4 linked regions of the Homo sapiens genome follow. The protein of the gene in region 4 interacts with the protein of the main gene of each other region in a pairwise test. Each region holds a gene or a part of one and is shown on either strand. Other genes may lie near its edges.

Region 1 (5,153 bases), on a different chromosome or scaffold from region 4:
GGGCATCTGTGTTCCCAGGCTGGGCTGGGGAGGAAGGGCAGTGAGGAGGAGCTTGAGAAAGTCTGGGAAGAAACCGTGGAGGGAGGAAGAAGGCAGGGTTCAGGGCCAGGGACCAGAGGTGGCGTGCGCTTCTTGGGAGAGACCACTGACCTGTTTCAGGTAAACTTGTGCCCCCTACACCTTGTCGCCAACAGGCTCTTTTTAGAGACAGGCAAAGGCTCCACACCTGGGACCAGAGGGCAGGTTGCAGCTGCAGGGAAAGCTGGAGAGAACTGGGGAAGCCTCTCCCCACTCGCCACTCTCAGACTCAGAATCAATCAATCACGAGAACCTTCCCCGCCCATCACCTCCCGGCCAGTCCAGTGTGGACCAAGAGGGGCCTCCAAAGTGACCCAGGGCCTGCCCGGCCTCAATAAAAGAGCAAATAAGGAAGCGGCTAGGCTCTGACATCATTTCCGGGGGGGCTCATCAAAGTGTGTGCTCCAGCCCCCAGAGATGGAGCTATGTGGACACCTGTTCCACCCCACACCTTCCTCTCCAGCCAACAACAGGGCCTGCTCCCCAGGACCAGGGCCTGCCAAGAAACCCCGTCTTGTTTCCCGGCTGGGAAGCTTCATCTGGCGACCCCGCTGGTCACCTGACTGTCCCTTCCATGACCCAGTGAATTCACCCCTTTCCCAAGAGCTCACGGAGGGCTGGGCTTCTACGTCCGAGCTGGGGCAGTGACACAGCGCATTAGCTAAAATCGAGTCCTGGGGAGCCCCCACTCCCATCCTTTTCCCCAGTAAGACCTGCGTGTGGAGCGCAAGACACCATCTAGAATTTTGGTTTTAATTTGCCAGTCTCGTTCTGTGCCCTGTTTGCCACAAGGCCCCTGGGGCCAGGACCAGGTTTAACTTGGTCCCAGTGGTGACAGTATCAGCCCTTTGAGAAAACAGAGGCGCTGGAAGCCAGTGGCGAGGAACACAGGATTCCAGCGGGGACCCCCCGCCGGGGCAGAAGTTTCCAATTACCCTAATTGGCTACTGGCAAGCTGTCTGTGGCTCGAATCCTTCTTCTAGAGGGGAGCTGGGTTTGATCTCCCACTAATCCGGGGGTCCTCAACAGTGCTGACTGTGTGATCACATCACGGGCATTTTCATTGGCCAAAGAGACTTCAAAGCAACCGACTTTTGAAAAATAAAACACAATAAACAAAAGAGTGCAAGTGGAACTGCAAACTCCATCTCCCCCGCTGCGCCTGACCCCCTAGGCCTGAGGCTGTGGGGGCTGCAGTGAGGAGGACTTGGAGGTGGGAGGTGGAGCGTCAGCTCTGCCATGGCTGACAAAGGCCGTCAATTACGGGCGGCTGGTGGGGACCGTGCCTGCCTTTGTCCTCCCGGACATCTGCTACACGTCGCCTGCTGCCAGTTGGCGACTGCGGCTGACAGCATGCGGGAACAATGCGAGCCCGTCTCCGACCCACTTTTTCAGCCTTCCGAGGTCCTTTCTGACCCAAGCGGTGCCCCGGCGTGCGAGGCTGCCAAGGTCTCCGAGGAGTCACAGCGATGAGATCCCTCACACAAAGCTCCGTGGGGGATGGGTCTGATGGGGAGGGGAGAGGCGGGAGTGAGGAAGGGGAGGGCCAGGGCCACCAGGAAAAAGAAACATGCTTCCCTTATTGGTGTGAGCTTGCATGCTCGGGCTGGGGGGCTTGTGCGGGGGCACTCCTCTCAGGGATTTGCTCCCTTCCCCGTCTGGCTCCAGACTGGCCACCGACTCTGCCTGCCCTCCTCCCCATTTCTTTCTCCCGCCAGGGCCACCCCTGTCCTCCCGCCTGTCCATCTGGCCCTGTGCACCAGGGCCCCAGCTGCCCGTGGGCCGCCTGCCAGGCCCCCTGGCTGTCAGGCTGTCAGTTTCTGGATGGTTCTGTTGTAGTACTGCGTGATGGGGGGCGTCAGAGGGTTCCAGCTGTTAGCGTGGAGCTCGATGACCTCTAGGAGCAGCGACCGGGTCAGCATGGACTCCGAGGGGCACAGCATCTTGTCCCGTGCGCTGGCCAGGAGCTCTGTCATCATCTCAGGCAGCTGTTCCTCCAGCAGCCGGCCTGTACTCTGCAGCTGCAGACAGAGATGTGGGGTTAGGATGGCCTCGGGTCCCACAGTGGCCCACTGGCCACCCTGATTAGGTGGGCAGGGATAGGAAATAGCTGGGTTGTCTTAAGGACACACAGGCCCAGACCCCTGTGCCACAGCTGGAATGAGGACAGGGAGAGTGGAAGGTGGAGTAGCCAAGAGTGAGAGCTCACATTTACCAACCAATCTGCCAGCAGGATCCAGAGGGATCCGAATATTGCCTACTGCCCAGGGCTGAAAGAGCTGTCACCAGGAACATGCCTCTTGTCCCTTTTACCCAAGAGCCTCCCTCTTCCAGGAAGCCTTCCCTGACTACATCCGCACCCTCAAATGGCTCCATGATCTGTGCCCCTTGGTGATCAGGGGGCCCTGTGGTCATTTTCACTTGCTGGGGCGTCTCTCTGGCAATGAGCTTAGTCATTATTACATGTGTCCATTGGAACTTGAGAGCAGGGGTGATGCCTCCTGTTTCTCTCGCTCTCCTTTTCTCCTGATCCTGATCCCATCTCCCAGCCCCCAGAAGTGACCTCTGCTCATGCTTGTGACAGGAAGTGGGGGAGAGAAATACAAACTGGGGAAGAAGGCCAGCCAGAGGCCGTCAGGAGAGCCCTAGATAATCTTGAAAAGCCCACTGGGAAGGAGCCCCTATTCCTGGACCAGCACACCCCTGGCCAGTGCCCCCCAGGCCCTCTCTATAGAATCTCAGTCCCCGTCTCGGTCCCCAGCCTTGTCCCATTCATTTTTCTAGTCTCTGCCTTCTTCACAAAGCCTCCCTTGAACCCCTGAGCCCTTCCTGACCTCTCTCCCCTGACTCTTCAGGGATGTCTCTGTACTTACACTTATTCTATCTACTCTCTGAGAGCTATTCCTAACCAGACTGGAAGCTGCCTGAGGGCAAGGACCAGGCTTTCTCCTTCTCCCTAATTCCCCCCTAATCCCAAGCCCCCTGTAGGGTGCCCAGCTGGAGGCCAACAAACAAACTGAGTCCCACAGACCCAAGACTGCCATCTGGCTCCCAGTGCTTCTGGCCTCTGAGCTCCTCAGTGAGGCCTTTGCAGCCAGGCGGAAGCCACCTGAGTATGCTTATGACAGCTGCCAGGCCCAGGTCCTCGTCTGGAAGCCCCTCTCCTGCCTGCATCCCACTCTGAGTGACTCTGGACCATCTGCAGAGGGCAGAGATCTGCCCAGGGACTGGGCCAAAGCCAGGCGCTAAAGGGAGAGCCCAGAGGAAGAGTCTCCATTAGCAGGGGCCACAGCTTAGGGACAGGAGTGGCACCTCCCAAGAGGTGTGCTTTCGGGTGGGCTGTGCCAGCACTGCATTGCCAAGCATTAGCAAAGCAAAGGGAAATATTTGAGGGCAGAGGTAATCAGGAACTTCTTAAGTCATTTGTGTGGCATGCCTGAGCTGGGGCGCAGGGGGTCTTTGGGGGACAGGGAAGTAGGCAATGCCACTGGGAATCACTTCTCTCTCCCTTCAGTCAGGGGTGAGCTGCTCTCACCATCAGTGTTCACTCTGGCTTGGGGTGGATAATTCTGGATGCAGAAGTCCATGCCCACTCCTGAAGCCATCCACCTACCTTCCCCTGGACTTGTAAATGCCTCCAACAACCCTCGTGCCCCTAGAACTGTTAAGGCATGAGAGATGCACCGGCTTTGAGGTTGGGGATGTCGAAGCCCCAAAGCTTACCTCCATAGAGCAGCAAAGGACAGCATCTTCCTTCACATCCTGAGATTGCAAGAGCTGTGGAAGAGAGGGGCAGAGAGCACCACTGAAGGAGACATGCCGGCTACTGGGCCCTGTAGCTCCCTGCAGCCCCCGCCGACCTGCAGCCCCAGCCCTGATGCGGCCTGTAACAAACATCTCCAAGGTTCAGGCTAGAGTGAGAGCCCACAAAAGTCAGAGAGCAGAAAGTCAGTTGCGCCGGGTGGCCGTGATTTCTCCGACAGGGTTAGAGCAGCTGGAGGTCAGTGTGATGGTGCGATGTGGAGCCCCTGGGCCAGGTCTGAACACCGTGATTCAAGAGGCCACTGAAGAGAAAGCCTGCAGCAGTGAGTGCGCTGGGATCATCCAGTGTTAACAACTGGTCAGCAGAAGTCCTCAGGGAAATGAAATTAGCTTAGAGACGTATAATTGGTAACTCCTCTATGGGTGAGGAGGTTCAGCCATTGACTCAGGCACCCCTGGGCCCTGGCCACAGGAGGAAGTCCAGGAGTCAAAGCCCTCTTCTCCACTGGCCCAGTGCTGTAGACTTTCAAACCCACAAACCTGTGGACTTACTCAGGGGCTGGAACTGTTTCCTAACTAGGGCCATGGCTGGGCTGCTCAGCGCTCAGTCCTGCCGTGCTACAGTCCATGCTTCCCCCGACTTGCCTGGCTCATTCTCTCAATCTCTCTGTCTCTTTTAAATTGAGATACCATTCACATAACACAAAATCCACCATTTTAAAGTATATAATGCAGTGCTTTTTAGGATATCCCCAGAATTGTGCAACCATCACCACTATTTAAGTTCTGAACATTTTCATCACTCCCCATACAAACCCATACCCACTAGCAGCCATTCCCTGTTCCTCCTCACTCCAGCCTCTGGCAACTCCCCCCGATTCTATGTCTCTATGGAGTTGCCCGTGCTGGACATTTTATAGAAATAGAATCACACAATATGTGGCCTTTTGTGATTGACTTCTTTCACTTAATGTTTTCAGGGTTCATTCATGTTGTAGCATATACCAGTATCTCATTCCTTTCTGTGGCTGACTAATATTCCATTGTAAGGATATGTCACATTTTGTTTATCCATTCATCTGTTAATGGACTTTTGCGTTGTTTCCACCTTTTAGCTATTAGGAATAGTGCTGCTATGAACCTTCGTGTACCAGGCTTTTCCTGGATGCATGTTTTCAATTCTCCTGGATATTACATAGGATTAGAATTTCTGGGTCATGTGGTAACTCTATGTTCAGCTTTTTGAGTAGCTGCAAGACTGTTTTCCCACAATGGCTCCATCATTTTACACTCTCACTAGCAATGCATGAGGG
Region 2 (5,310 bases), on a different chromosome or scaffold from region 4:
AATCGCTTGAACCTGGAAGGTGGAGGGTGCAGTGAGCCGAGATTGTGCCACTGCACTCCAGCCTGGGCGACAAGGCGAGACTCTGTCTCAAAAAAAAAAAGAGATCCTCCCGCCTCAGCTTCCCAAAGTGCTCACAGGAGTAAGCTGCCACACTTGGCCTAGAGTTAATTTAAATCAGGGCCAAGCCTGGTGGCTCACACCTGTAATTCCAGCACTTTGGGAGACCGAGGCGGGTGTATCACTTGAGGTCAGGAGTTCCAGACCAGCCAGGTCAACATGGGGAAACCCCGTCTCTACTGAACATACAAAAATTAGCCGAGTATGGTGGCACATGCCAGTAATCCCAGCTACTCGGGAGGCTGAGGCAGAAGAATTCCTTGAACCCAGGAGGTGGAGGTTGCAGTGAGCTGAGATCAGGCCACTGCACTACAGCCTGGGTGACAGAGGGAGGCTCTGTCTCCAAAAATAAATAAATAAATAAATAATTTAAATCAGAAGAAATGTGCCAATAAAATGAGAAAAATATTAAGTAAATCATAGTTACCATGACACACAAATACATAAAAAAAGTGAAGGAAGGTCTGAGAGACTAAACGCTGCTTACAATGCTCGGCCCATTTTGGGTGGAAAGGCCTTGAAGATTTTTTTTTTTTTCTGATTTAGGATTGGGGTATTAAAAACAAAAAAAGTGCAAGACAGGAGGATCACTTGAGGCCAGGAGTTTGAGACCAGCCTGAGTAACACAGCACGAGAGCCCATCTCTACTAAAAAGAAAAAAAGAAAAATAATTAGCTGGGTGTGGTGGTGCAAGCCTGCAGTTCCAGCTCCTCAGGAGGCTGAGACGGGAGGATCCTTTGAGCCCAGGATAGGGAGGTTGCAGTGAGCCATGATCATGCCACTGCACTGCCGCCTGGGTGACAGAGTGAGACCCTATCTGTAAAAAATAAAAAATAAAAAAATTCTTTAAAGTAAAAAAAATTAATTAATTAATTTGAAAGGGAGACTATATTGTTCTGATAAACGGAAAACCAGAGTCCTTTTTAGAAGGCATTGTACAATTTAAAAAGAATTATTGAAAATAAAACAATACATGAGTATCTATATCCTCCCAAATTAAGTGGGTTGCTGTCCGTGGCACCAATACTATATTTCGAATGCACAGACCAGGTGCGGTGGCTCATGCCTGTAATCCCAGCACTTTGGGAGGCTGAGGCGCGTGGATCACCTGAGGTCAGGAGTTCAAGACCAGCCTGGCCAACATGGCGAAAACCCATCTCTACAAAAAATGAGCCGGGCGTGGTGGCGGGTGCCTGTAATCCCAGCTACTCAGGAGGCTGAGGCAGGAGAATCGCTTGAACCCGGGAGGCAGAGTTTGCAGTGAACGGAGATCGCACCATTGCATTCCAGCCTGGACGACAGAGCGAGACTCCATCAAAGAAAGAAAAGAAAAGAAAAGAAAGGAAAGGAAAGGAAGAAGGAAGGAAGGAAGGAAAGAAAGGGAGGGAGGCAAGAAAGGGAGAGAGGGAGGGAAGGAGGGACAGAAGGAAGGAAGGAAAGAAAGAAAACAAAATCAAATGTGCAGCCCTGGAGGATAATCTCTGAGTCCTTGGGCTGGTCATGGTTTGGGCCGAGCCAACCCTGCCAACCCCCTCTCCCACCATTTGCCCTCTTCACACATCCTCAGCTACAGCCATGACCGACTCCTCATGCGTTTCCATCCAAGCAGCATCTTTTTCACCTCCCAGCTTTTGCCTCTGCCGTCGTCTCCACTCAGAATGCCAAAGGCAAGTGGAAATGTCATTTTCCCCTGAAGCTGACCCCTCTAGGAAGTAAACACTTGGAACTTTTTTCTTTTTCCTGCAGCCTTGGTGCAAGTGATCCTCCTACCTCAGCCTCCCCATTAGCTGCAGCTACAGACATGTGTCACCATACCCGACTCATAAAAAAGAAATGTTCTGGGCTGGCACGGTGGCTCACGCCTGTAATTTCAGCACTTTGGGAGGCCAAGGTGGGCGGATCCCTTAAGGTCAGGAGTTCGAAACCAGCCTGGCCAATATGGTGAAACACCCTCTCTACCAAAAAAAAAAAAAAAAAAAAAAGAAAGAAAGAAAGAAAAAAATACATATATATATATATATATATATATATATATATATATATATATATAATTAGCTGGGTGTGGTGATGCACGCCTGTAATCCCAGCTACCCAGGAGGCTGAGGCAGGAGAATCACTTGAACCTGAGAGATGGAGGTTGCAGTGAGCCGAGATTGTGCCATTACACTCCAGCCTGGCCACAGAGTGAGACTCTGTCTGAAAAAAAAAATCTACTAATTTTTGTATTTTTAAAATTTAATTTTTTTCTTTTTGAGGCAGAGTCTTGCTCTGTCGCCCAGGCTGGAGTGCAGTGGCATGATCTCAGCTCACTGCAACTTCTACCTCCCGGGTTCAAGAGATTCTCCTGCCTCAGCTTCCCGAGTAGCTGGGATTACAGGTGCACTCCACCACACCTGGCAAATGTTTGTATTTTTGGTACAGATGGGGTTTCACCATGTTGGCCAGGCTAGTCTCGAACTCCTGACCTCAAGTGATCTGCCTCCCTCAGGCTCCCAAAGTGCTGGGATTACAGGCATGAGCCACCGCAGCCGGCCTAATTTTTGCATTTTTTGGTAACAGACAGGTTTTCGCCATGTTACCCAGGCTATATCTCGATCTCCTGGGTTCAAGCGATCCACCCGCCTCAGCCTCCCAAAGTGCTGGGATTACAGGCATAAGCCACCACACCCGGCCTCATTTTTAAAAACTTTTTGTAGAGATGGGGGTCTCACTATGTTGCCCAGGCTGATCTCAAACCCCTGGGTGCAAGCAATCCTCCCACCTCGGCCTCCCAAAGTGCTGGGAGGCCCAGCAACATTTGGGATCTTTAATTTCAGATGTTCCAACTGTGACTTCTCCCTGGCGCCTTGATGGGAGCATCTGAAACACCCTTCACCATCTAGATGCACAAGGAAGCAGAGATGCTAATTGGTCCCCAGCTGGATGAGAAGCGCTGGGGGTGGAGGTTGGGAGATGGGAGTGCTGCCCCTCCCTTCCTCCCCCAAGCCCTGTCTTTCCTTCTCCTCCTGCCACTGGGTGAGTCCTCCCCTGTTAGCCCTTGCCACTTCCTCTTTCTGAATCTCAGTTGTCCCAGCTGTAACTTTATAGTAGGAGGAGGGTTGTGAATGAGCTCGTTCCTGTTGTTCTTTCCAATGCTGACCTTTGCCCAGAGTTGACAAAAGAGCTAAGAGTCTGAGTTTGGGGAATGAAGGGCTCAGTACTGGAGGTGACAGGTAAACGCACCCATGGAATGGGCAGTTAGGGGACACTGGGCACAGGGAAGGACAGAAAGAGGGTGTGCTCACCAATGGCTGTTGGAAAGACAGCTGGTAAAAGAGATGAAATCAAATGACCTAGGGACTATCCAAACATAAGAAGAAGGCCGGGCTCGGTGACTCACACCTGCAATCCCAGTACTTTGGGAGGCCAAGGCGGAAAGATCACCTGAGATCAGGAGTTTGAGACCAGCCTGGCCAACATGGTGAAACCCGCGTCCCTACTAAAAATACAAAAATTAACCAGGCTTGGCAGCACGCACCTGTAATCCCAGCTACTCAGGAGGCTGAGGCAGGAGAATCACTTGAACCTGGGAAGTGGAGGTTGCAGTGAGCCAAGATCACGCCACTGCACTCCAGCCTGGGTGACAGAGCGAGACTCTGTCTCAAAAAGAAATAAAGATAAATAAATAAATAAGAATAAGTTGAATCAGCCAGGCACGGTGGCTGTCGCCTGTAATCCCAGCACTTTGGGAGGCTGAGGAGGGCGGATCATGAGGTCAGGAGTTCAGGACCAGCCCGGCCAACATGGTGAAACCCCGTCTCTACTAAAAATACAAAAAATAGCTGGGCATGGTGGCGGGCGCCTGTAATCCCAGCTACTCAGGAGGCTGAGGCAGGAGAATTGTTTGAACCCAGGAGGTGGAGGTTGCAGTGAGCTGAGATTGCGCCATTGCACTCCAGCCTGAGTGACAGGGCGAGACTCTGTCTCAAAAAAAAGAAGTGGAGTCTCAGTTTCTTCATCAGTAAAATGCGTACACAAGTACAGGCTGCAGGGGGTGGTTATAAGGAAAGTGTCAGAACTGTCATACTCGGACCACAAGTGAGGAATTATTTTCCGGCTTTCCATTTTGCCTGGTAGGCAAATTTCACTTCCCTGTTTCCTCTCCCACCTCCACTCTCAAGCATCGTGCTCAGAACTGCATGATGAAGAAGAGTGTGGCTGTCTGGGTAGTCTCTCAGCTCTACCCTTGATTTGCTACGTGGCCCTGAGTAAGTTGTCTAATCTCACTAACCCTGAAGTTGCCCTGTCTGTAAAATCCTGCCTAACTTATAAATTATCCTAATGATTAACTGAGTTCGCCTAAAGAAACCAATGAAGGCCGGGTGCAGTGGCTCACGCCTGTAATCCCAGCACTCTGGGAGGCTGAGGCGGATGGATCACCTGAGGTCGGGAGTTTGAGACCAGCCTGACCAACATGCAGAAACCCCATCTCTACTAAAAATACAAAATTAGCCAGGCATGGTGGTATGCCTGTAATCCCAGCTACTTGGGAGGTTGAGGCAGGAGAATCACTTGAACCCAGGAGGGGGAGGTTGCGGTGAGCAAAGATGGCACCATTGCACTCTAGCCTGGGCAACAAGAGCGAAATTCCGTCTCAAGAAAAACAAAAAAGAAAAAAAGAAAGCAATGAGGACATACATGATGGCTGAAGCAGAAAGACTCAAGGCCAGGCAAGGTGGCTCACACCTGTAATTCTAGCACTTTGGGAGGCTGAGACGGGAGGATCACTTGAGGCCAAGAGTTCGAGACCAGCCTGGGCAACAAAGTGAGACCCCTGTCTCTACAAAAAATTAAAAAATTAGGCCAGGAGCGGTGGCTCATGCCTGTAATCCTAGCACTTTGGGAGGCTGAGGCAGGCGGATCACTTGAGGTTAAGGGTTCAAGACTAGCCTGGCCAACATGGTGAGACCCCATTTCTACCTAAAAAATATAAAAATTAGCTGGGTGTGGCGGTGTGCGCCTGCAGTCCCAATTACTCGGGAGGCTGAGGTGGGAGAATCACTTGAACCCAGGAGGCAGAGGCTGCAGTGAGATGAGATCATGCCACTGTGCTCCAGCCTGAATGGAGTAAGACTCTGTCTCAAAAAAAAAAAAAAAAAATAGCTGGGCAGGGTGGCAGGAGCTTGTCCCAGCTATTCTGGAGGCTGAGGCGGG
Region 3 (4,073 bases), on a different chromosome or scaffold from region 4:
CAATGATCTCTCTGCCACCCTGATAGCTTTGCTAGCTGATCCCAAACTTCCACTGAATGTGGCAGTAACCTGTACTCCAAAACACTCTTCTAGTGTTCTGCTCCATTTAAATCTATTTTTATCCTCTATTATTAAGAGAAATTGTTGGCATATATATTCCACCAAATTTGGTCAGAAAATATTTTCTGCCTAACAAATAGAAAATTGGATACTCTAATTTTCCAGGCATGTGGGCACATTCACAATTTTTACATTGCTGTCCTATTGCCAGCTTCTAGCAGACCAGCCTAGGCTGTCTGTCCACAAAGACAGGCTTACACCTGGACATTGACTTGGAACCCTGAAGCAGGTACTGAGATCATTTGGGTCCAAAATGATTTTAATCTAAGTGTATGCTGGGGAGGAGGTTTCTCTTTGAAACTTCCTAACAATTGCTTTAGCCTTTTCTATTTAAAGTGGACACACAGTCCCCTGGGATACAGCAAATGGGTGGTAGAAATTGCAGTCGTAAAATTTGCCAGTTTTTCTTATTAGTAACTTCCTAATTAGTAGTGCTATAAAGAGAGTAAATGCTCTGAATCACTGGGGAAAGGATATTTAAGATAAGAAAGGTAGTCTGTCAGAGCTGAATCAGGGTTTGGCTCTTGAAGCAATCCTTCTTTACTCTTTTCTTTCAATGGGGATAAAATAATAATAATTTTTTCAGAATAAGACTTTTCATCCTAGCGTATGTTCCTTTATTTAGCAGAGTCTAAGACGAAAGGTAATGCCAGGGAAAAGTCAGGGTGCAATAGGATGAGAGATGGAGCTGCAGACCTTTGCATTTCTAGAAAAATCTCAATATCCCAAGGCAAAGTTGTATTTTCCCCAGGATATGTGCATACATTTTTCATAGATAAGCTTTTCATTTTTGTTTTGTTTTTATCTTTAAAAATGACTTTTTTGGAGGAGATATACTTCTAAAAAGTTATTGTATGGCTAATTAAAGCTATGAAACTTAATCTCATATAATTTATATAATTTGATTCAGTTGGTACATTTTTTATTGTGTTCATTTAAATGTAGCCTTCTTGGGAAACTATGTATAACAGGAAAAGATCATGACATCATTGTGTCCTCATAGGGCTCATAATTGAATTTTACCTTGTAAAAATTTCATTCTGGTTCAGGTATGCAAAGATTTATACGAACATTTAGCAGTTCATCAATTTTTAAATCAGATGTTCATTGTTTCATTCATTTATTCAACAAGTATTTATTGAACTCTTATTTTATATAAAGACCCCATTTTATGTGTTCACCATAAGCAGCATTATTTAAGTGACTATTCATGATAAAATAATATTCTCCTCCTAAGTGGCTGCTAGTAAAATGGGTATTTTAGTCCTTTAGACCATTGTCTCAGTGAAGTTAAAGATTTTGTTCCAACTGGGAAAATCTGAGAGAGGTAAATTCATCTGGGGACCAGAAAATAGCATATTGCAAAACAAGTTAAGATGCACAACTTGGTTGTCTTTGCTTAACTCACTGGGCTATTGGTTGTTAGCAGCAGTATCAAGAGACCAGGATTAGGGCCTGGGTCTTGGGTTTTTATGACCCCCCCTTTCAATGATAAGGCAACAAGTTGGGTACAAGGCTGGAGTTGCTCAGGGAAGGAGATCTGCGACCCTGAATGGGTCAGAGTTGCCTCATTAGTGGTAAGCGTTGGCAGTGTAGTCCCTTTCCCCGGTGTGCAGAAGTAACATTATTTGTTTTGCACTAATTTAAAATTTAAAATGCAAGTATCTATTGAGTTGTTTAAAATGGGAATCATGGCACGTCTCACAAAGAGGGCATTTCCAGAACAGCAGGGTTAACGGGTCCCTCTGAGTGTACCCAGCAGCCTGCGTTTAGGAGCAAATTCATTGCTCTCATATTAAGGCTATGCATGCCTACAGAAACCAGGCCAGGAATAAGAAATAAATAATCACATTTCCTGAAATGTTTATCTGTTTCTTCCTTGACATGAATTTAATTTTTATTTCCCAGAGTCTTTACTAGATCCTGACATCAGATTTTAAAAGATACTGAGATATATGCTTCTTTAAATGATAACTGTAAGTTCCAGAAATGTTATTCACTTGTCAGGATCCTTTTAAGGTGAAGAGCTTTGGAAAATTTTATGCGCTAACTAGATACCTGGGTGATCATCAACCCAAAGTTTAAAGTTCTCCCCTCACTAGCATTTATCTGAACTACCACAAAACAACAACGCAGGTTACTAGGAAGGCACCTATTTCAGCCCTCCCCAAGATTGCATTCTACAAACCCAGAGATCAGCTGTCAGGTACAACTGGCCAGACAGAGCCAAACTGAAAAGAATATTGCTTTATCTGTGGAAACCTTGCCACAGATGTTTAACCTGTAGTCCATGGCTGTGTTTGACATTTAAAATATTTATTTAGTTTCTTCCTTTAAATAATAAATGCCAGATGTTTCATCAGATCAATATGTAAAACGATAACAAAAAATATGTCGGAAACAGGTCAAAGTCATGAAACATTTGAATTGTCTTTCCTATAGACTGAATATGCCACCACTGCACTTAGAAAACCTATGGAGGAAATTTTAATGGAAAAATAAGGACATTCTGCGCTTATTCCCACAGAGGTTGATGGGAATGATGATGATTATAAATTATATTGTGCAATTACTGCCATGCCTTGTTCTAATGCTTAATGTGGATTATCTCTTTTAATCCTTAGTAACTCTATAACAAAGATACTATCATTATCCCCTTCTCATATATGCTTAACAGTTTTAGCTTTGTAGCTTCTTTAGTTTTTTTCCTCCTTCAAAGCCATAAACAGGCAATTGTTAAAAGAGGAAAATACTTCTCTATGTAAAGCTTTTTTTTGAGAACAAGAGCTTTTAAAAATTAATAAACACAAGTATAATTTATTTATAAAATGTGTTTGTGGAAACAATACTGAAGTGCTATTAAAACACGTATCATTATAGATGCTGATTTTGTCATGCCCAAATCTCATTGCTGGACAGAATTTCAACTATTCCATTGCTGTCAGGCATTGTTTTTGTTTTTCTAAGCAGGAATCTAAAATTCCACATTGAAAGAAAAAAAAATAACCCTCTCAAGTGTGATATACATTAGGACAAATGGCAACAGGCAGGAAGGGCAGGTTGTGTTGGAGGGTGGCCAGAAGAGAATAAGGTTCGAACACTATCGACAGGTAAAAACACATCCTCAACGGGGCTAAGTGAAATCTCGTTTTCTTTCTTTGTTCTGACTGAATGCTAAGTGAGTTACTTTCCAGGCATCAATGGAGTCATTACGCAGTTGTGTGCATTAAGAATATGGGCTTATGTTGTTAGCCTGTTGGTTTAAAGCAGTGCAGCAGAAAGACTGGAGTCATTATAGGTTTGGTTTGTCAAAGGCACAGATAGTGTAGTTACATGCATGAGGTACTCAAGGAACCAGTTCAAGTTCTGGGGCACAATCTAGATGAAACTGTGAGGTTTGTTCAAAAAGTAAGTGTACAAAATTTCATCATGAACTGGCTTTATTACAACTCTTTACCGTGGTTTATTGAAACCACAATGTATACTACTTTCCTCCAGATTCTGATTCTAATGGGCACATTTGTTTGTTGAAATGATAAATATATTTTCCTTGTCAAACATGGTGGGTCCTGGTTGATATCTCCTGTTTCCTGCCTTGAAAAACATCCTTGTTGGTGCCTTTCTCCCACTTTGGTACATCACTCCCAACTGAAAACAGTCTAGATATAAACTTTAACAAGCTGGAGATCTATTTCTACAGCACAACTCTTTCATGTTTAAAAGCAATTATGCCGTATCAGGTGATTGCCACATGTTGGGGAAAGCAGCCATCTTAGAGCAAAAGTCTGCCAACCCACAGTCCCTGTTGATCCACATGTGGGCATTGTCTAATGTTAACAAAATCAGCACTTGTAGACTTACTTTCTCTGAACAATCTAGTACACTTCTCTAGTTTCTCCCAACCTGGAGAAAATGTATAGCAAAAGCCAGAGGCAAAATTATTCTCCTTAGCA
Region 4 (4,975 bases):
GGAGCCCAGGCCACCCTGGGGCTGCCCCATGCTGGGTGGGCAAAGATGGGGCCATTGTCAGGGTCTGGGTGCATTGAGAACCGGAAATGGAGTCAGACGGGTTTGGTGACTCAGAATTGATTTTTTTTTTCCCAAGGGACAGGGAGGGGGCGTAGAGGAGGGAGGGGGGAGGAGAGAGGTAGGGGGATGGGGAAAAAGCTGCTTTGCACAGCTAAGATGTTTTTGTCATTAACCCAGAAACTGAGGTACAAGGGCAACCCCTGCCCAAAGGCCCTCTAAGAAGGGGAGGGACTTGCATAGCTGACCAAGGAGACTTTGAAGATGCTCAAGGACCAAAGACAGCAGTTTCTCTGCTCTGTGACCATCCTATCAGTGCAGGACCTGAGAAGCTGGGTGTAACTTTGACAATGCTATGGTAACCCAGGTGGAGCAAAATTGAGTTCATGGGGGTGGGGACCTGGGAGAGTATCTATTTGGGATGCCACATAGTAGCAGAAAGGACCCATCGAGAAATCTCAAGAAGAGACTCAGGGACTTATAGAAACATTGGTTAAGGACGGTTTCCCCTTTAAATGGGGAAGCAGGCCCAGAAAAGAGATGATACTTACCCACAATCACCCAACTAGTTAGCAGTGGAACCCTAAACTGCACCTTGAAGTGAAGGGTCCCATAAGAAAGGTGGATGGATTCTTCTTAGTGGGGCCATCTTAGTCCAGATGCAGCAGGTGAAGGAAGATGGGCATTTGAGAATGGACCCACTGAAAGGTTCCCCAAGTGGTCCTAGCACCAGGAGCTTGTCACGGAGTGTGGGCTTCATACTGTTGAGCTGCAGGCCCTGCTTGGGGCTTCTGGAAAGGGGACAACCTCTGGGTTGTCTTCTGGGAAGAACAGTCTCTGGTAAGGAGAGGCTGGAGACTCTCTAAAACTGGCCCTGACCCTTCTGAGCTGTGTTTCTCCTCTAGGGGCTGAGCTGGAGGAGAGTAGCAAAAACACGAAGAAGTTGGATGCCATGACCCTCATTAAAGAAGGTGGGAGTCGACACACATTAGGGCTGGGACCCAGGGCAGACAGGACCACGCTCCACTTTTCCACCACACTACAGAAGGAGGTGGCTGCTTGAAGCAGCTGTCTGGGGACCCTCATTTTGATAGGTCCGAGTCGGCCGGTTGTTCTGGCTCCTGTGACCTGTCGTTGGAGATCATAATCATAGGTGATTGCCCACTCACCTGAAAGCGTATACCCTTTGGGACTGCTTAGATCGAACTCTGGAAGCTGGAAGCATTCAGCATGGAGCTTGTTATATCAGCGGGGAGGTGAAGTGCCTTCTGAGTGTGGGGTGGGAGTGCTCTCCGATCTTCCAGAGAAACCCTGGGATCTTCAGCCCCAGTGACATGGGCTTCTGTCATTGCAGACATGTCCATCTTCGGGCACTGCCCTGCCCATGATGACTTCTACTTGGTTGTGTGTAACCACTGCAGCCAAGTGGTGAAGCCTCAAGCTTTCCAGAAGCACTGCGGTGAGGGGAGCCCTAGGGAGGAGATAAAGGGACAGGGGAAGGTGGAGCATGGAACTCTGAGGACAGGGTCAGTTGGGAGGTCTCGTAGGGTAATGGAGGGTGGTGTTGAGGATAGGAAGGTTGTGGGGGTGGCTTCAGAGCATTGTGGGGAGTCGGGTTATTGTTTGAACAAAATTCTAGCATCCAGTGGAATTACGGGAGGAGTTAAGACATTCAGGAAGCTGGGTCTTGAATTTTGAGTCCTAAAGGCTCAGATTCAAATGGGAAGGAGGCATGTTTACAATCTAATTTATGGAAACTCAGATTCTCTCATGTGAGTCTATGGACATGGTTAGGTTGGGGAAGGAAGTGGTGATACCACTCACCTTGATTATTCTTTCCACCTCCTGGTGACAGAAAGAAGACATGGGCCCCTCAGCAAGCTTTATGGCCGGGCCCCACCCCCACCTCCAGCCCCTGCCAGCTCTCAGAAATGCCATGTAGTGAATGGGCAGGGCCCAGCTTGTAGGGCCCCAGGTTCCACGAAAACCTCCTCCAGGGAGAAGGGCCAGGGGTCCCGGAGCCGTGGCCACCAGCCTCCTGAGAAGACCCAGAAGGACAACCTCTGGTAAGGAGAGGCTGGAAACTTTCTAAGACTGGCCCTGACCCTGACCCATGGATGGGCTGACATCAATACAGACAGCCCTGGGTCAAGGCATACTCCTCACAGCAGGAGGCAGCCGTCCTGTCTGCAGCTTCCTTCCATATATTCCAGGGAAGATGGGGTCTCCTCTTCCCGTGTTTCACACCCCTGCTGGAGCCCACCCAAATTCCAGGGCTGGGAAAGAGATGGCTCTGGGCTAGAGTCCAGGCCCCAGGCCTCGCCTCCCCTCCCCTCCCTCAGCCAACCCCCTCTCTCTGTGTGTAGCCTTTTCGTGCCTGTGGTGAATCTGGAGAAGATGTCCAGTCTCCCGAAGCCTGATGGACATGGAATCAGGGTGGCCCCACCCTCTGCTTTTCTCAGCCAGCCAGGGGGCCTCACCAAGGACTCCCCTGGAAAACCTCCCATGGCTCCCCCTTCTAAAGAACCTCCTGGCAGAGAGAACATCGAGATCATCCCCAGTGAGGGGTCCAGTCACTGGGCTGAAGGCAGCCCTCCTGAAAAGGAGCCCAGTGGGACCAGGCTGCCCCCTAAAACCCACCGGAAGATGGCTCGTGAGTAGTTGTGGTCTTGGGGGTCCAGAATGTAGAGTGGGGACTCCTTTGGGCTGCTTTGTCCTTGGGCTGGATGAGGAGGAGGTCAGGTTTATGGGCCTGGCCATCACAGGTTGTAGGGTATAGGAGCCCCGTCACCTCTTGACCTGCTTGCTTCCTGGGAAGCTTCTCTCCATCCTGTGTCTCCTGATCAAGGCTGAGGGAGCCCATGCCCAGGAGGTGAAGTTCTTTCTCACTCTTTTCTCACCTAGATCCAGGGCGCCAGCCAGACACATCTCACAGCTGGCTTCTCTGGCCTCCCAGATGCCCATGGCTGCTTTTGTTTCTTGATGTGTGTTGCCCTGCTTTGGGCTTGAAGTCCCAAAAGGCGCACCTGAAATTGGGATAGGGATGGTTCTCACACCCAGCAAGGAGATGTTGATGCCCAGAAGTTTATCTGGAAGGTACAGCCCCAGGCTGAGGGCTGGAGTCTCTTCTGCCTTAGTACCAGTTCTCAGGCCCTTGGCAGGAAGCGGCCAAATCCTCCTGTAAACTCCTGGAAATGGTCTTGAGGTTCATTGGAAGTGCTTTCCCCACAGGGAAGGAGTGCGACCTCAACAGGCAGTGTGGGGTAATAAATCCAGAGACCAAAAAGATCTGTACCCGCCTGTTGACCTGCAAGGTAACCCCCTTCCCACTGCACGGTGAGGGAGGACAGCACAGGGCTTGCCCACTCCTTCCCTGGGCAAAGAGAGGAATGTCGATGTTACTGAAGGTCCAGCTTAAGGGAGGGCAGTTAGGCCCACCCAAGGGAAGGGGAGATGGGTATGCCCCTCCTGGGCAGAAGGTGGGAACAGTGGGAAGGAGGGAGTTTCCAGATTCCCCCATCCCAAAGGAGGGTTTTGGCCCCATGGGGGAATGAAACAAAGACACATGAACACAGCTGCAAATATGCCCACCTCTCTCCCTGCCCCCCAACTTGCCCGGGCCAAAGCACCCTGCCGTCCCTCACCCCTTCTCAGTTCATACCTACTCCCCAGCTCTCCACTCTGCTGTATTCTAGATCCACTCAGTACACCAGCGCCGGGAAGTCCAGGGCCGGGCCAAGGACTTTGACGTGCTGGTGGCAGAGCTGAAGGCCAACTCCCGCAAAGGGGAGTCTCCCAAGGAGAAGAGCCCAGGGCGCAAGGAGCAAGTTCTCGAGCGCCCCTCCCAGGAGCTCCCCTCCTCAGTCCAGGTTGTAGCAGCGGTGGCTGCTCCCAGCAGCACCTTCTCTGTTCGTGCCAAGCAGACCTACCCATACTGTGCACTGCCCAGGTACGTCTAGAATCCAACCCCTACCTCACCTGGGGGTACTTGGCCCCTAAGCCATCAGGGGCCCCTGGAAACAGGCTCAGGGAGTGTCCTGGAAGAGGCACTCCCTCAGCCCTGAGTGTGGGGGTATTCCTGGGGCTCCTGACAGTGGTGTGGAAGCAGGAGACTCCCCTGTTTCCAACCAGGCATACCACAGCACCCCAGCCTCTCGGCAGTGTGCCAGATCCAACACTCAGGATATGAACATTTTCCCAGCTGCCTCCAACAGACCGAAACTTGTCACTGGGGAGCTGAAAGGGTCACACTCCTGGGCAAGGCAGCCCTATGTGTATTCACTCACTGGCCCCTTCGCGTGCAGAGGCTATGCCGGACCCCAGGGAGAGCCTGACTTGCTGAAGGAGACACACATGCATCTCTGCCTGTCACACAAGGGGCAGACACGAAACACAGGCTCAGCTCACAGACAGGCTCACAGGAATATGTGATGCAAGAAGGGGGTTGAGCGAGTTGACTGGGCTGACCAGAGCTGGGTACAGTTTTAACTGTGAAGATTTTCTGGAGGAGGCGGATCTGCAGCAGATTATCCCCTGAGGAGGAAGGGGCTGGGAGGTGAAGGGGCTGGGGAGAGAATCCCTTGGGAGCAGTCTCTCTGTCTCTTACTCTGTGAGCTGTGTCGTTCCCTCCTGTCCTTCCCTTCCCTCTGTCCTCTTCTGATTGCCCTGCAGGGTGTCTGCCCTGGTGCCCTGCTCTTTGAGCTCGGCAGGTTCAAGGATGCCCCTACTCTGACCCCACAACAGTCACATTCCCCTGGCATCCCTTTTGGCCCTTCCAGGTCCCGGGCCTCCTCCGAGAGTGAATTGGATGATGAAGGCCCCTGTGGTGGTGATGGGGACCCAGGCCTGTTCCCCTTCCCCATGCCCCGGGGTGGGACCCAGGCCTCCAGCGAAGAGAGTGAGGAGGAGGGGACATCTG

Evidence for each region. Proteins that work in one complex are often made in the same cells at the same time.
Region 1: the proteins of ATXN7L2 (region 4) and CTIF interact in a two-hybrid assay, tested with the Homo sapiens proteins (one large-scale study listed by BioGRID).
Region 2: the proteins of ATXN7L2 (region 4) and SSC4D interact in a two-hybrid assay, tested with the Homo sapiens proteins (one large-scale study listed by BioGRID).
Region 3: the proteins of ATXN7L2 (region 4) and PRDM6 interact in a two-hybrid assay, tested with the Homo sapiens proteins (one large-scale study listed by BioGRID).

Annotation. Positions count from the first base shown.
Region 1 is NC_000018.10:48,856,290-48,861,442, reverse strand, and holds part of CTIF (CBP80/20-dependent translation initiation factor), read right to left. Parts: intron 3,856-5,153; coding exon 3,802-3,855; intron 2,100-3,801; coding exon 1,884-2,099; 3' UTR 1-1,883. UniProt on the Homo sapiens protein: Specifically required for the pioneer round of mRNA translation mediated by the cap-binding complex (CBC), that takes place during or right after mRNA export via the nuclear pore complex (NPC).
Region 2 is NC_000007.14:76,402,129-76,407,438, reverse strand, and holds part of SSC4D (scavenger receptor cysteine-rich domain-containing group B protein precursor), read left to right. Parts: intron 1-2,933; 5' UTR 2,934-2,999; coding exon 3,000-3,132; intron 3,133-4,277; coding exon of another isoform or gene 4,278-4,364; intron 4,365-5,310.
Region 3 is NC_000005.10:123,189,500-123,193,572, forward strand, and holds part of PRDM6 (putative histone-lysine N-methyltransferase PRDM6), read left to right. Parts: 3' UTR 1-4,073. UniProt on the Homo sapiens protein: Putative histone methyltransferase that acts as a transcriptional repressor of smooth muscle gene expression.
Region 4 is NC_000001.11:109,485,095-109,490,069, forward strand, and holds part of ATXN7L2 (ataxin-7-like protein 2), read left to right. Parts: intron 1-237; exon of another isoform or gene 238-962; coding exon 963-1,028; intron 1,029-1,411; coding exon 1,412-1,516; intron 1,517-1,912; coding exon 1,913-2,123; intron 2,124-2,423; coding exon 2,424-2,710; intron 2,711-3,288; coding exon 3,289-3,371; intron 3,372-3,752; coding exon 3,753-4,006; intron 4,007-4,188; coding exon of another isoform or gene 4,189-4,246; exon of another isoform or gene 4,247-4,835; coding exon 4,836-4,975.